Linked DNA regions of Homo sapiens: region 1 is linked to region 2. The links come from fine-mapping of genetic effects on gene expression. Tissue or cell type: whole blood. Region 2 holds a variant in brackets; the other region holds the start of a gene. All regions are shown on one strand. Distances are from middle to middle.

Region 1 (7,722 bases), 140 kb before region 2:
CCAAAATGAAATGGAATAACATCTTCAAAGTGTCCATTTTGCATTGTAGATCCAACCCATTGTCAGAGGATGAAAGTGATATAAATACATTTTCAGATAAACATAGTTTCTCACCAACAGACTGCTATTAAAGGAACTTCTAAAAGATGTACTTTAGAAAGAAAAATGATCATAGAATGATCTGAGATATGAAAAGGAATAGTAAGTAAATAAAATACAAACATGTAAGTACATATATATACACACATACATAAACATCTGTGTAAGAGTCTGGAGAGAGGTGTCCAGACTTAAAACATTCTAAGGTTTTTGGATTGTCTAGGGGTAGTGTTTAAGATATTTAACTTAAAACTTTATTGTATTAAATATGCAAGGCAAAAATTTAAGGGTAACACTAAGAAAAATTGGTAGCATAAATTTGAAAAAAAAAAAAGAATAAAACACACATGCCCGACATTTTTTTTAAAGGCAAGGAAGAAAAAAGCATAGAAAAAAAAAGAGACTAATAAAATTAGTTCAAACAAGTCCAAATGTATGTCAATAATTACAATGAATGTAAATGGAATAAACTTGCCAATTAAAGGTTATACTGCCATATTGGATAAAAAAACAAAATCCAGCTGCGTGAAGTTTATGAGACACAAAATAAAAAGGACAGAGAAAGGTTGAAAGAGAGGTGGGGAGCGAAAAGATATATAAGGTAAACACCAATAAAAAGAGAGCTGGGATGTTACCTTAATATTTGACAAAAATTTTAAGACAAAAAGCAGTATTGGTGATCAAGAGGGCAACTACTAAATAATAAAGAATAAATTCATCAGAAAGGAAAAATATAACAATTTAAATTTCCATTTTCCTAATAGCCTCAAAATATAAAAAGCAAAAATTCATAGAATTTCAGGGTAAAATGGCCAAATGCAGAATTATAAGTTCTCCTTGTTCTTTACTGTAAAAATCATACATAGTGAATACATTCAAAAGATATTTGTATTAGCTTGTGGGATTAAGGATTTTTCTCCATTTTCTAAACTTTATTGCTGTGATATTGATTTTATAATTCATATACTTTTTTCAGAAATGAACTATGCGGTGAAATTTTTAAATAACTGATGGTTAATTATGGTTTTACTAAATTTGGGGGTAATTACTGTGTATAGTTTTAGATCCTGCTCCCAATGATTATCAGGTTGTGTACATTTTAAAGATAATTTCTTGTTTGTGTTTTGCTAAAATTTCAAATGATTTTTACATGGACTCAAGTGGTTCAGACACCACTTGACTTACACATTAAAGAACGTGGCTTACTACACAGTTTCTGCTTTACTCAATAAGAATAAAATAATTCTGGAAAGAATGCATAATAATGCACTCCAAACTTAAATATGCTACTGATTGTTAATGGCTACATTATTCTGGCTATTTGTATCAACAACACAGCCACAACTTTTCTAAACTTCTGCCCAGATATTACAATTATCCTAGGGATTACTTACTCTCAGAAAAGTAGAGGAAGATACAAATTGGCAATTCTTTTTCTCACACTGATACTCCTTTGGACTTAAGTGAACCAATATTGTTATTACTAAAGCTCAGTATTCCACCTCTATTTATACTTTCTGAAACGTATAAGCAACACTTAGATGAAATAGGAAGGGATCACTGTACACAAATGGAAAATAAAGCAGCATGCAAGGAAGCTGGTTCTAAAGAAAACAAGCACAGGTGGCCGGGCATGGTGGCTCATGCCTGTAATCCCAGCACTTTGGGAGGCCGAGGCAGGCGAATAACGAGGTCAGGAGTTTGAGACCAGCCTGGCCAACATGGTGAAACCCCGTCTCTACAAAAAATACAAAAAATTAGCTGGGCGTAGTGGCGGGTGTCTGTAATCCCAGCTACTTTTGGGAGGCTGAGGCAGGAGAATCGCTTGAACCCAGGAAGCGGAGGTTGCAGTGAGCCGAGATCATGCCACTGCACTCCAGCCCTGGTGACGGAGTCTCATCTCAATAAACAAACAAACAAAAAAGCACAGGTTACTTTATTACAGTACTGAAAACCAAGACAGCACATGGACTCTCTTTGAATATATAACCTAAAAATTGAAACTGTAAAATTTAATCTATTATACAGAATTTTTTTCATAGTTGTTTAAATTTTACTGTTTGCAATTCTAGAAAAATAACATCATGTTGGAAAAGTAAGCAGTAATTTAAAATGAATTATATTTTGAAAAATATAGAAGAATGACAAGAATTCTAAATTTTTGTGAATATTTTACCCAAGAAATGTGTTTTAGAATCTTTTGAGATTTGAATTAGAAAATATTGTTGGTCAAATTCTTTCACTGTTTAAAGCCAACAATAAAAGAATAGGAAAAGAATGTAGTTATTTCCAACTCTGTGCTATAACAATAAGATAGTAACGTCTAGAAATTATATCTTAAAACCTTCAGAGTAAATTAATAAAAATTCAACATACTTCAAGTTATCACTGTATTTTTTCTATAATTACCTTTTCGTTTACTGTTTCAATTTATTGAATTATACATACAATGAAGAGCACAATAAATGTACATACAGCTTGATGAATTCTCACATAGTGAGCCTGTGTTACAAGTAATCTATTATTAACTTTTAAGATGATACAGTGCTATGATCGAAGGACTAAAATGATCAACATCACCATAAAAGGCAGAGTCATAAACAAGAACAATTAAGTGTAATTAAATCAGGTGGGAGGCACACTTACAAAAATGAAACAATTTTTGGTTCACATTTTACACCACACAGGTATTCTGTATCTTTAGAACATGAGAAAATACATATTCTCAGTCTGATAGGTCTCTGACTTGGGGGTTTCTTTTACTGTACTTTTTTTCTCTCTAGTAGCTGAACATTTTAAAGCAATCAGCAGAAAAAATATAAAACTTCAGAACCAATTAGACTTTTAAAAGCAACGTTCTTGCCCTTTCCAGAGATACATTCCTTAATCCTCCTACAAATCATGACCTCACACGATAACTTTAAGGGTGAACATCAACTTATCTACATTTTGGTGCTTTCTTTCCCTTAAGTGGCAGATGGTTTCTATTAACCTAAAATTGAAGTCATTGTTGGGGGACCCCTAATTCCATGTCTAGTCCTAGTGCCCAGAGGCTACCAAAGACGATACGAATAGCTTCTCAGGCACTCTACCCACCGTTTACCTTGTTAATACAAATCTTTCCCAGACCTGGGTCCCGAAATTATTTTACCCTGCAGAGCAGAAATGTTACGGTGTTCATTCAGTGAACTCTTCCCTAGTTTTTAATCTTTGTATTTTCTGCGTATACTTCAAGCCACCAGTAACTTTCCCAGTTACCAAGAAACAGTGTAACACAGGTCGCTATTTGTTTTGTTCGGAATTTACGAGCAATTTAACCACACGTGATTAGCAACATTAAGGGGGCTCCTCCAGGCAAAGAATCCACAGAATGAGAGGCCCTTGGTACCCAAATGAAGCAACAATGAAAGATCGGCGAAGCTCAGCAAGGTTCCTGAGCGCCACGGACGCCTGCTCTGATTTCAGGTTGCCGGCGCGCGCCCGCGGGTCTGCCTTTATGGACGAGGCGCAAGAGGGATCCAGGAAAGACGGTGCCCTTAGAGACTCGGAGATTAGCGTGGGCAACCCTGCCACCAGCTGCCCCTGCCACCAGCCGCCCCCACAACAAAAAGGAGGAAACGCTCCGCATCCCGTCACCAGGACAACTCTGTAACCCGACACCGAGGCTCAAGATTCCGCATCCCGGGCAGCGAACACAGGAGAAAAGCACATCGCGGCCCGGCCGCGGGGCTCCAAGGCGTCCGTGCCGCCGCTGTTCCTGGGGTGCCGAGAGCGACGCGGGGTCCACCCTCTCCGCCGGCCCGAGGTCCGAAGCTCGGCCCGCCACCGCTCCCGGCCGGCGCCTCCCGCACGTGGCGGCCGTGATTGTCCCGGGGCGGTATCCCTCCGCGCCCCCGCCTCAGTCTCCCCCCGCCCTTCCCGGGACCCTCCGTGCCCGGGCGCCGCGGAAGGATCGCACGCACGCGCGCGCGCACGCCCAGCCGTGTCCGCGGAAAACGGAGGGCGCTGCGGTAAGGAGCAGCCGCCACAGGCACAGCCGCTTCGCAGCCTCCCGCCGCTGGTTTGTCAGCCCCGCGGCTGCGGGCGGCCGGGCGGCCGAGCGCGCTCTGAGGTTCGTCCCTCATCGCTGAACCCGCGTCCTCCCGCCGCAGCTCCTCGGGGAGGGGGGCGGTCGGTGCCTGCGCAGAGCCGCCTCCTCCCCGCCCCCGCCCCGCCTCCCCCCGCGCCGCCGCCGCCCGCTACCGCCGCCGCCGCCGCTGCGCCTGCTGCTCCTCGCCGTCCGCGCTGCAGTGCGAAGGGCTCGAAGATGGCCGGTTGGCAGAGCTACGTGGATAACCTGATGTGCGATGGCTGCTGCCAGGAGGCCGCCATTGTCGGCTACTGCGACGCCAAATACGTCTGGGCAGCCACGGCCGGGGGCGTCTTTCAGAGCATTACGGTGAGGACCAGTGGCGGCCGGTACCCTGGTCCCTGCACCGGAGCGGGGTGGCCGGCCGCGGGGGCACCGCAGCGCGGGGCTGGAACACTGAGGGCCGAGCCCGCAGGTGTGCTAGGCAGCGGGCGCCGAGGATGCGGCTGCCGGGCGGGCGGGGAGGCCGAGGCCCGGGGACGCCCCCTCACCCGGGGCTGCGCTGACAGGCTGGGGGCGGCGGCCGGACTCCTTGCTGGCCCTGGCCGGGCGCCCCCGGCGTTCCCAGCGTCGGTCCAGGTGCCCGGGTTGGGGGAGGGGGCACGCACCGGCCAGGGCAAGGGGAGGGGTTCCTTTTTTCCTCCTAGTGCGGTTCCCCTAGGTTCTCTTGAAGCCCTGAGGTTTGCTATGCACGTTCTGGGGTGGAAGCGGGGGTCGGGGATCCGGGCTGGGGCGCGCGGGCCCCGGGTGGAGGTCCCTAGGCTCTCTGGCCGGCTCTTGCTCCGCGGACAGCGCGCCTCCCGCGCCTCCGGCTGTGGGAGGCGGCGGCCCCGGCCCGGCCCCCGGGATTCTCGAAGCGACTTTGCGTAGGTTTACCGATGTCCAGGCCTCTGGGGCTTGCGAGAGATGTACGCCGACCGCGTAGGTGGATTCGTGAATCTCGACTTCAGCTCTAGCTCTATAGGTTGTTTTTTTTTTTTTTTTAAATTCTCCAAGATGGCGAACTGCCATTGATTTCTCTTCTCATATGGAGATTCATCGATATACGGTTATCCCCAGTTATGCAACATAGCTCAAAAAAGGGGTGCTTTTCGGGGGCTTTCAATTATCTGCGAAGACCAGGAGCACACTTCACTTCTCTAAGTCCCTCCCTCTTTAGTGGTGGCAGTAAAGGAACTAATGCAGTTTTATGCTTCACATTGCCTGATTTTCTTGAGACTTGATGGTTTTGAGTTGGTTGCAATATGTTTGGAGAATATTTGCCACAAAACCTCCAGCTTATTGTTTTGCCTGTTTCTGCCCAAGGCTGTTTCTAAAATTATGATAATTGTACTAAATACGAGACCATTCTCTTTATTTCTTAGCACCACGCTCCCTTTCCATTAAGCACCAAAATTCAGGTCCCCTATTAAGGGTGCTAATTATTCTTTTACCACTTAACATGGTTTAAAGTCTAACTTTAGAACTCAGTCCTTGATAGTAGTACTTTAAGGTCTCGTATACCCGCAGTGGACTACAATTCTTGTAGGGAATTGGCATCTGGTCATCAACTTTTTTCCTGCAGTCCTCTTGTCTTTGTGTGTGAGTTCCCGCTGTCTGACTAGGAAGATTGCGGGAGTGTGCTTGGAAATGGCTGGGGCCTGCTATGACTCTGCAGTTCTGATGGGGGCGACGCCTTCCTTCTTATTCATGGAATGTTAGAATGCACGTTTTCTCCTTTCCGGTTCTGGTGGCTACCTCAGTTTCTTTCCCAATCTCCCTCCATTTTTTCTGTTTTACTATTGCCTACCGCAGTGCTGTAGACAGAATCCACTTTGCGTTTGCCCAGAAAGAAAACTGATTACTGAGATGGGAGGGGAAGGGAAGTTGGAAAGAAACGGGAGTCGTGGCTAGAAAAATAGGAGGGAAATATGAATTTGGAAAAGCACTGATGTCCAGGGGTTGAAGTCCATCTCATCACGTATATTTCTAGTTACTCTAAGCAGAGAAGTGAACACATCAAAGAACAGGCTTTATTTTGGGAGACTTTGAAGCAACTTTAAATTTGATGAAACATGATTTACTGTAATGGGACTGAATATGATAGACCAGCTTTGTTCAGAGTTGATAGCTGAATTTTTACCATTACGTGAACACTTTCAGGCACCAGCTGACTTAATACAGTTTATAAATAACTCTTTAAGTTTGCACTTTGTCTAGTGTCAACTGTCAACTCTTTACAGTTTCTTTGTATAGACTGGTCTTGGTTAAGAGACGACATCATTAACTGAAGTCAAATCAACTCATGTAAAATATGTGATTATATAGGATTAAATAATTATTTAGAAAAGACTGAATCTTGGTTTTACATTAGTGAAATGTGGCTATCTGGCAGTGGTAGCATAAGCCTAGCTACAGCCCTTCCTGTTACATCAAGCCCTAAAAGGAGTTAACTACAACTTAATGTGTGTGTGTTTTTTTTTTTTCTTTTTGGTGGGGGGCAGCCAATAGAAATAGATATGATTGTAGGAAAAGACCGGGAAGGTTTCTTTACCAACGGTTTGACTCTTGGCGCGAAGAAATGCTCAGTGATCAGAGATAGTCTATACGTCGATGGTGACTGCACAATGGACATCCGGACAAAGAGTCAAGGTGGGGAGCCAACATACAATGTGGCTGTCGGCAGAGCTGGTAGAGGTGAGTAAGGCATTCTTTTGGTTAAAGTTGCATGCCACATTACAACTTATTAAGCAGTTTCTTTTAACATTTTGAATAAAAGTTAGTCCATAATGGCTATTAAGGTGGTTTTTGTGAACTGCCCAGCACTATGGAGAAGCACTGCTTTAGTTTTACCTACTCTACAGCATCTATGACCTGGCCTCTTAGATCCTGATTTTGTTTCTACGATAGAATATTCGTATGAACTCACTTTCAGCTTTATTAAACTTAAAAGTCTCTTAAACTGCTTGACATGTCAAATCATAATCCTGTGGTGTTTCAGATTGTTAAATTGTTCGAATCACTTGGTTATTTTAGTCCCTTTTGGTGTGTGTTTGACCTTTGGATCTCTTTTCTTTTTTTTCTTGCTTGTATTCTAACCATTTCACTACTCAGCATAAAGAAGGAAAAATTAACATCCGTTCATTTTTCAGTTAGGAACTTTGCTGGGGAAAAGATAATTAGATGAGGATTTTGGAGTAAGTTGTCCATTCACTGAAATATTTTCAAAGATTGTGTCTGAGACTTAGATTTGAAAAGTAGGAAATTACATTTAGTTTGTATACTTGGTCCAGAAATTCAGGTGTCTCCAGACTGTTGTCAGCATTATAGAAACTCTTAATTGCACTAAAGAAGTCTCCCTACTTTTTCAAAATAAACTTTTGAAATTGAGTTTTATTATGACATCTAATTGATTTACAAATACATTTTAATGTGTTAACGCATACGAATATTTTGTAAATAGAGAGTGCTTCTGTAGCCTCACATAGCTGACTTGGCACATCTAATTTTAATAA
Region 2 (7,722 bases):
AGGTCTTTCCCATGCTATTCTCATGAGAGTGAGTAAGTCTCATGTGAACTGATGGTTTTATAAAAGGGAAGTTCTCCTGCACATGCTCTCTTGCTTGCTGCCATGTAAGACATGCCTTTGCTTCTCCTTTGCCTTCTGCCATGATTCTGAGGCCTCTCCAGCCATGTAGAGCTGTCAGTCCATTAAACCTCTTTTTCTTTATAAATTACCCAGTCTTGAGTATTTCATCATAGCAGTATGAAAATGGACTAACATAGTAAATTGGTACCAGTGGAGTGGGTACTGCTATTAAGATACCAGAAAACTTAGTTTAAAAGGGAAGTGACTTTGGAACTGGATAACAGGCAGAGGTTGGAACAGTTTGGAGGGCTCAGAAGAAGACAGGAAAATGTGGGAAAATGTGGAGCTTCCTAAAGACTTGTTGAATGGTTTTGACCAAAATGCTGATAGTCATATGGACAATGAAGTTCAGGCTGAAGTGGTCTCAGAAGGAGATGAGGAACTTATTGGGAACTGGTGAAAAGGTGATTCTTGATATGCTTTAGCAAACAGACTGGTGGCATTTTGTCCCTGCCCTAGAGATTTGTGGAACTTTTAACTTGAGAGAGATGATTTAGGGTATCTGGCGGAAGAAATTTCTAAGCAGTAAACTGTTCAAGAGGTGATTTGAGTACTCTTAAAAGCATTCAGTTTTATTCATTCACAAAAATACGGTTTGGAATTGGAACTTATGTTTAAGGGAAGCAGAGCATAAAAGTTCAGAAAACTTGCAGCCTGATGATGCAATAGAAAAGAAAAACCCATTTTCTGAGGAGACATTCAAGCCAGCTGTAGAAATTTGCTTAAGTAACGAGGAGCCAAATGTTAATTGCCAAGAAAATAGGGAAAATGTCTCCAGGGCATGTCAGAGGTTGTCATGGCAGCCTCTCCCATCACAGGCCCAGAGGCCTAGGAGGAAAAAATGGCTTGCTGGGCTGGGCCCAGGGCCTTGCTGCTTTGTGAAGTCTTGGGACTTGGTGCCCTGCATCCCAGCCGTGGCTAAACAGAGCCAAGGTACAGTTTGGGCCCTGGCTTCAGAGGATGCAAGCCCCAAGCCTTGGCAGTTTCCACGTGGTATTGAGCCTGCAGGTGCACAGAAGTCAAGAATTGAGGCTTGGGAACCTCTGCCTGGATTACAGAATCTGTATGGAAATGCCTGGATCCCCAGTCAAAAGTTTGCTGCAGGGGCAGAGCCCTCATGGAGAACCTTTGCTAGGGCAGTGTGGAAGAGAAATATGGGGTTGGAGCCCCCACACAGAGTCCCTACTGAGGCACCACCTGGTGGAGCTGTGAGAAGAGGACCACTGTCCACCAGACGCCAGAATAGTAGATCCACCAACAACTTGCACCGTGCACCTGGAAAAGCCGTAGACACTCAACGCCAGCCCATGAAAGCAGCCAAGAGGAAGGCTGTACACTGTAAAGCCACCAGGGAGGAGCTGCCCAAGACCATAGGAACCTACCTCTTGCATCAGCGTGACCTGGATGTGAGACAAGGAGTCAAAGGAGATCATTTTGGAGCTTTAAGATTTGACTGCCCCGCTGGATTTTGGACTTGCATGGGGCCTGTAGCCCTTTTGATTTGGCCAATTTCTCCCACTTGGAACAGCTGTATTTACACAATGCCTGTACCCCCATTGTATCTAGGAAGTGACTGATTGGCTTTTGATTTTACAGGCACATAGGCAGAAGGAACTTGCCTTGTCTCAGATGAGACATTGGAATGTGGACTTTTGAGTTAATGCTGAAATGAATTAAGACTTTGGGGGACTTTTGGAAGGCATGATTGGTTTTGAAATATGAGGACATGAGATTTGGGAGGGGCCAGGGCAGAATGACATGGTTTGGCTGTGTCCTCACCCAAATCTCATCTTGAATTCCCATGTGTTGTGGGAGGGACCCGGCAGGAGGTAATTCAATCATGGAGGCAGGTCTTCCCCATGTTATTCTCGTGATAATGAATAAGTCTCATGAGATCTGATGGATTTATAAAGGAGAGTTGCCCTGCACAAGCTCTCTTCTCTTGTCTGCCACCATGTGAGACGTGCCTTTCACCCTCTGCCATGATTGTGAGGCCTCTCCAGTGATGTGGAACTGTAAGTCCATTAAACCTCTTTCTTTTGAAAATTGCCCAGTCTCAGGTGTCTTTATCAGCAGTGTGAAAAAGGACTAATACAATAGCTGTATGAAAAAGTCCTTATTTGGGGAGCTATCTATTATAGTAAAGTACTTAGGAAAGAAATGTCATGATATCTGTCATTTAAAGCACTTCAGAAAAAAACACACTATAAATCTAGGTGAAGATTACATTGAGATTCATTACACTATTTCTCTGCTTTTCTATATGTTTGAGAATTTATATAATAAAAAGTTTACTAAATGCATGAAAAATTATTTTAACTCTTCAGTGATCTTTTCAGAAGGCCTTCAGCCTCTTTTCTTAATGTGGCATACAGACATAAAATTTACCATATAAAAAATTTTAAAGTATACAGTTCAGTAACATTAACTATATTCACATTGTTGTGCAAATATTACCACAATCCATCCCTAGAATTTTCTCATCTTCCCAAACTGAAACCTGGTACACATTAATTACCCATGCCCCATCCCCTGGCCATTGGCAAGCACAATTTTATTTTCTGTTTCTATAAATTCAACTACTCTAACTACCTAATATAAGTGGAATCATACAATATTTGTCCTTTTGTGACTAGCTTATTTCACTTAGCATGATATCTTGAAGTGTTGTACCACATGTGAAAATTTCCTTCCTTAGCAGGCTGAGTAATATTCCATTATATGTACATACCCCATGTTACTGATCCATTCATCTCTCAATTGACACTTGGGTTGCTTAGATCTTTTAGCTATTGTGAAAAAAATAACTGAGTTCCTGCTTTAAATTATTTGTGGCATATACCCAGAAGTATTGCTGGATCATATGGTAATTCTACGTTTGATTTTTTTTTTTTAAAGAACTGCCATACCATTTTCCAAAGTGGCTGCACCATTTTACTTTCCCACAAATAATGCACAAACAGTTACTATTTCTTCACATCCTTGCCAACATTTGCTATTTTATGTTGTTTTCCTTCAAGACCAGAATGAGATACCACTTTAAATCTATTTTATGATAGACATATATATACAATATATATATA[T/C]ACATATAGCCATACTAAAATACATGTAAAGTGGTATCTCATTGTGGTCTTGACTTGCACTTCCCCAATGATTAGTGATGTTGAGCATCTTTTCATGTACTTTTTGGCCATTTGTATGTCTTCTTTGGAAAAATGTCTATTCAGCTCCTATGTTCATTTTTTAATTGGGTTGCTTGGTTTTTTGCCACTGAGTTAACAATCCCATCAAAAAGTGGGCTAAGGACATGAATAGGCAATTCTCAAAAGAAGATACACAAATAGCCAACAAACAAAATAAGAAATGCTCAACATCACTAGTGATCAGAGAAATGCAAATCAAAACCACTATGCAATACCACCTTACTCCTGCAAGAATGGCCATTATCAAAAAAATTTTAAAAAATGGAGGTTGGCATGGATGTGGTGAAAGGGAACACTTCTACACTGCTGGCAGGAATGTAAACTAGTACAACCACTATGGAAAACAATGTGGAGATTCCTTAAAGAACCAAAAGTAGAACTACCATTTGATCCAGCAATCCCAGTACTGGGAATCCAGCAATCCCAGTACTGGGAATCCAGCAATCCCAGTACTGGGGATCCAGCAATCCCACTACTGGGGATCCAGCAATCCCAACCCAGGAGAAAAGTCATAAAAAAAAGATATTTGCACACACGTTTATAACAACACAATTCACAATTGCAAAAATATGGAACCAGCCCAAATGCCCATCAATCAACTACTGGATAAAGAAATTGTGGTACACACATACACACACACACACACAAACACACACACACACACACACACACACACACACAATGGAATACTACGCAGCCATAAAAATGAATTAATTAATGGCATTTGCAGCAACCTAGATAGAACTGGAAACTATTATTCCTAGTGAAGTAACTCAGGAATGGAAAACCAAACATCGTATGTTCTCACTCGTTAGTGGGAGCTAAGCTACGAGAATGCAACGGTATAAGAATGATACAATGGACTTTAGGGACTCAGGGGAAAGGGTAGGAGGGGGTGAAGGTGTATACTGCTCAGGTGATGGATGCACCAAAATCTCACAAATCACCACTAAAGAACTTACTCATGTAACCAAATACCACCTGTTCCCCAAAAACCTATGGAAATAAAAAAATTTTTTAAATTCTCTATATATTCTAGACAGCAATTCCTTATAAAATATATGATTGAAAAGTATTTTCTCTCATTTTTTTCACCCTGTTGGTACTGTCCTTCAATGCACAAGAAGTTTTAATTTTCATGAAGTCAAACATCTATTTTTTTCTTTTCTTGCCTGTGCTTTTGGTGTCCTGCCCAAGAAATTATTGACAATTCCAATGTTGTGAAGCTTTCTTTATGTTTTCCTCTAAGAGTTTTACATAGTAGCTCTTATGTTTAGATCTCTGATCAATTTTGAGTTAACTGTTGCATATGGTATAAGGTAAAGGTCAAATTCATTCTTTTACATACAGATATTCAGTTTTCCCAACACACCATTTGTAGAAGAGACTGTGTACAATGCCTTTCTCTATCAAATGATCTTGACACCTTAGTCCATTTGTGTCGCTATAAAGGAATATCTGAAGCTGGGTAATTTATAAAGAAAAGAGGTTTATTTGGCCCACAGTTCTGTAAGCTGTACAAGAAGGATGGTACCAACATCTATATCTGGTGAGGACCTCAAGCTGCTTCCATTCATGGCAGAAGGCAAAAGGGAGCCCATCACACAGCAAGAGCAGCAAGTGAGAGAGAGGGAAGAAAGTGCCAAGTTCTTTTCAATCACCAGTTCTCAAAAGAACTAAGAGTGAAATTTCAGTCATTCCCATGAGAACGGCATCAAGCCATTCATGAGGGATCTACCCCCATAATCCAAATAGCTCCCATCAGACCCTACCTCCAATACTGGGGATCAAATATCAATATGAGACTTGGTGGGGCCAGACAAACCATTTCCAAACCATAGGAGGACTTCTGTCAAAAGTTATTTGAGCATGTATGTGAGGCTTTATTCCTGAGCTCTTTATTCTATTCCATTGCTCTATATGTCTATCTTTACACCAGTACCACACTATTTTAATTACTGGAATTTTGTAGTTAAGTTTTGAAATCAGGAAGTATACGACCTACAACTTTGTTTTGGCTATTTGGGGTCCCTTGAGATTCCATATATGGTTTAGGATAGATTTTCCTATTTCTGCAAGAAGGTTATTGCGATTTTGATAATATTACATTGAATCCATAGATTTCTTTGGGTAGTACTGACATCTTAACAGTATTAAGTCTATCAATCCATAAACATGGAATGTCTATTCATTTATTTATGTCCTCTTTATTTCAGCAAAGTCTTACAATTTTCAGTGTACAATTCTTCCACCTCCTTGGTTTAATTTATTACTATTTTATTTTTGTTGATATTGTAAATGGAATTGTTTTCTTAATTTCCTTTTTGGATAGTTCGCTGTTACTTTATAGGAATGCAACTGATTTTTGTGTGTGATTTTGTATCCTGCAACTTTGCTGAATTCATTTATTATTAATAGTTCTATCAGATATTTTTTCTTTTGTGGAATCTTAGATTGCCTACATGTAAGGTCATATCATCTGCTTACAATGGTAATCTTACTTATTCCTTTCTAATTTTGATGCCTTTCATTTCTCTTTCTTGCCTAATTGCTCTGGCTAGGACTTCTGGTGCCAAGATAAATAGAAATGGCAAAGGCAGGAATCCTTGTCTTGTTCCTGATCTTAGAGGAAAAGCTTTCAGTCTTTTATGACCAATTATATTAGTTGTCGGTTTTTTACACATGGCCTTTATTCTGAGGTAGTCTCCTTCTATTTTCAGTTTGTTGGGTGTTTTATCATGAAAGAGTGTTAAATTCTGTGAAATGCTTTTTCTGCATCTATTGAAGTGATTATGTGTTTTTATTCTCTTAATGTGGTACATTACATTGACTATAACACTTTTCACATGTAGAACCATCCTTGCATTCCAAGAATAAGTCCAACTTGGTCATGTGTATAATGCTTTTAACGTGCTGCTGAATTCAGTTTGCTAGCATTTTGTTGAGGATTTTTACATCAGCAGTCATAAGAGATAATGGCCTGCCTGGCCAAAATGGTGAAACCCTGCCTCTACTAAAAATACAAAAATTAGCTGGGTGTGGTGACAGGCACCTGTAATCCCAGCTACTCGGGAGGCTGAGGCAGGAGAATCTCTTAAACCTGGGAGGCAGAGGTTGCAGTGAGCCAAGATCACACCATTGCACTCCAGCCTAGGCAACAGAGTGAGGCTCCATCTCAAAAAAAAAAAAAAAAAAAGAGAGAGAGAGAGAACGATAAGTTATGTAGTTTTCTTTTCTTTCTTTTTTTAGTATCCTTGTCTGACTTTGGTACCAGGGTAATTTTGGCCCCTTAGAATAAGTTAGGAGGTGTTCCCTCTTTATCAGTTTTTTGGGAAGAGTTTGAGAAAAATTGATGTTGATTCTTCCTTAAATATTTGGTAGAATTCACCAATGAAGCCATCTGATCCCAGGCTTTTCTTTCTTGGAATGTTTTTGATTATTGCTTCAATCTCCCATAGGTCTGTGCAAGCTTTCTATTTTTTCATGATTCAGTGTTGGGAGGTTGTGTCTTTCCAGGTATTCATCCATTTCATCTAGGTTATCCAATTTCTTGGCATAAAATTGTTTATAGTACTTTTACAATCCTTTTTATTTCTATAAAATTGGTAGTTGTGTCCCCTCTTTCATTTCTGATTTTAGTTGAGTCTCCTCTCTTGTTTTCTTTAGTCACTATAATGAAAGATTTGTTAATTTCATAGATTTTTTTTAAAAACCAATTGTTGGTTTGGCTGAGTTTTCTCTTGGCCTCATTTTTGAGAAAATGAGCAAACTGGCTGGTACACATGATTATCTGTATGGTTTTGGAGGATAAATGACAGTTACTTGTCTAATGCTGGTCACTGAAAAATTTGAAAATTTCCCAAGCATCACAGTAAATCCTAACTTCACATTTAAATCTGTGACAATGAATTTTTAAGACCAGTATTACTTTCAGGAAATTCACTTCCAAATAAATTTTAATTCTGAAGATGAGTCAACAGTGTGATACCAACTGCTTCACTGCCAAATAACACTCATGAAACAGCCAGCCATCTCCATAAGAAATCCACCAAGTAAGCTCAGATTCCACTGGTTCTGAAGCTACATTCTTGACCTTCACTGGCATCTCAAGAACTGGACCAAAATATTCCACTACTAAAAGAATTGTTATCTTTTCCTAATTTGCGAACAGAATAGGCAGAGTAATTTCAATTTGTTTTTTTCAAGAAATGTACCTTATACTACAATAAGCATCAGAAGAATATATACTGTACCAAGCACTAACAGAAAAAAATCAGCGAACAATTAATTAACTATTTTAGTGGAAAATTTATAATAGCCAGTCACACATCATTTAATAGGTTATTTTTCCTACAAATGTGATTATGGTCACATATGTTTATAACATATATATGGCACT

Evidence for each region. PIP is the estimated chance that this variant, and not a neighbour inherited with it, causes the effect.
Region 1: PFN2 starts here. The variant in region 2 is fine-mapped to the expression of PFN2 in whole blood (INTERVAL, PIP 0.98).

What each region holds. Positions count from the first base shown.
Region 1 is chr3:149,967,540-149,975,261 of GRCh38, reverse strand. It overlaps PFN2 (profilin 2), which reads left to right and starts at 4,367. Exons shown (of 3, transcript NM_053024.4): 1 at 4,367-4,537; 2 at 6,712-6,904. The coding sequence starts at 4,406. LOC646903 (a long non-coding RNA gene) reads right to left here and starts at 3,983. Exons shown (of 1, transcript NR_036538.1): 1 at 2,020-3,983. RefSeq lists enhancers at 3,104-3,634, 3,635-4,166 and silencers at 4,012-4,071, 4,302-4,381, 4,592-4,831, 4,842-4,891, 4,912-5,171.
Region 2 is chr3:149,831,916-149,839,637 of GRCh38, reverse strand. All of the region lies in intron 1 of RNF13 (ring finger protein 13), which reads right to left. Among named protein-coding and RNA genes, the nearest start is that of RNF13, 23 kb to the right of the region's middle. The variant T/C (reference allele first, on the strand shown) is at 3,204.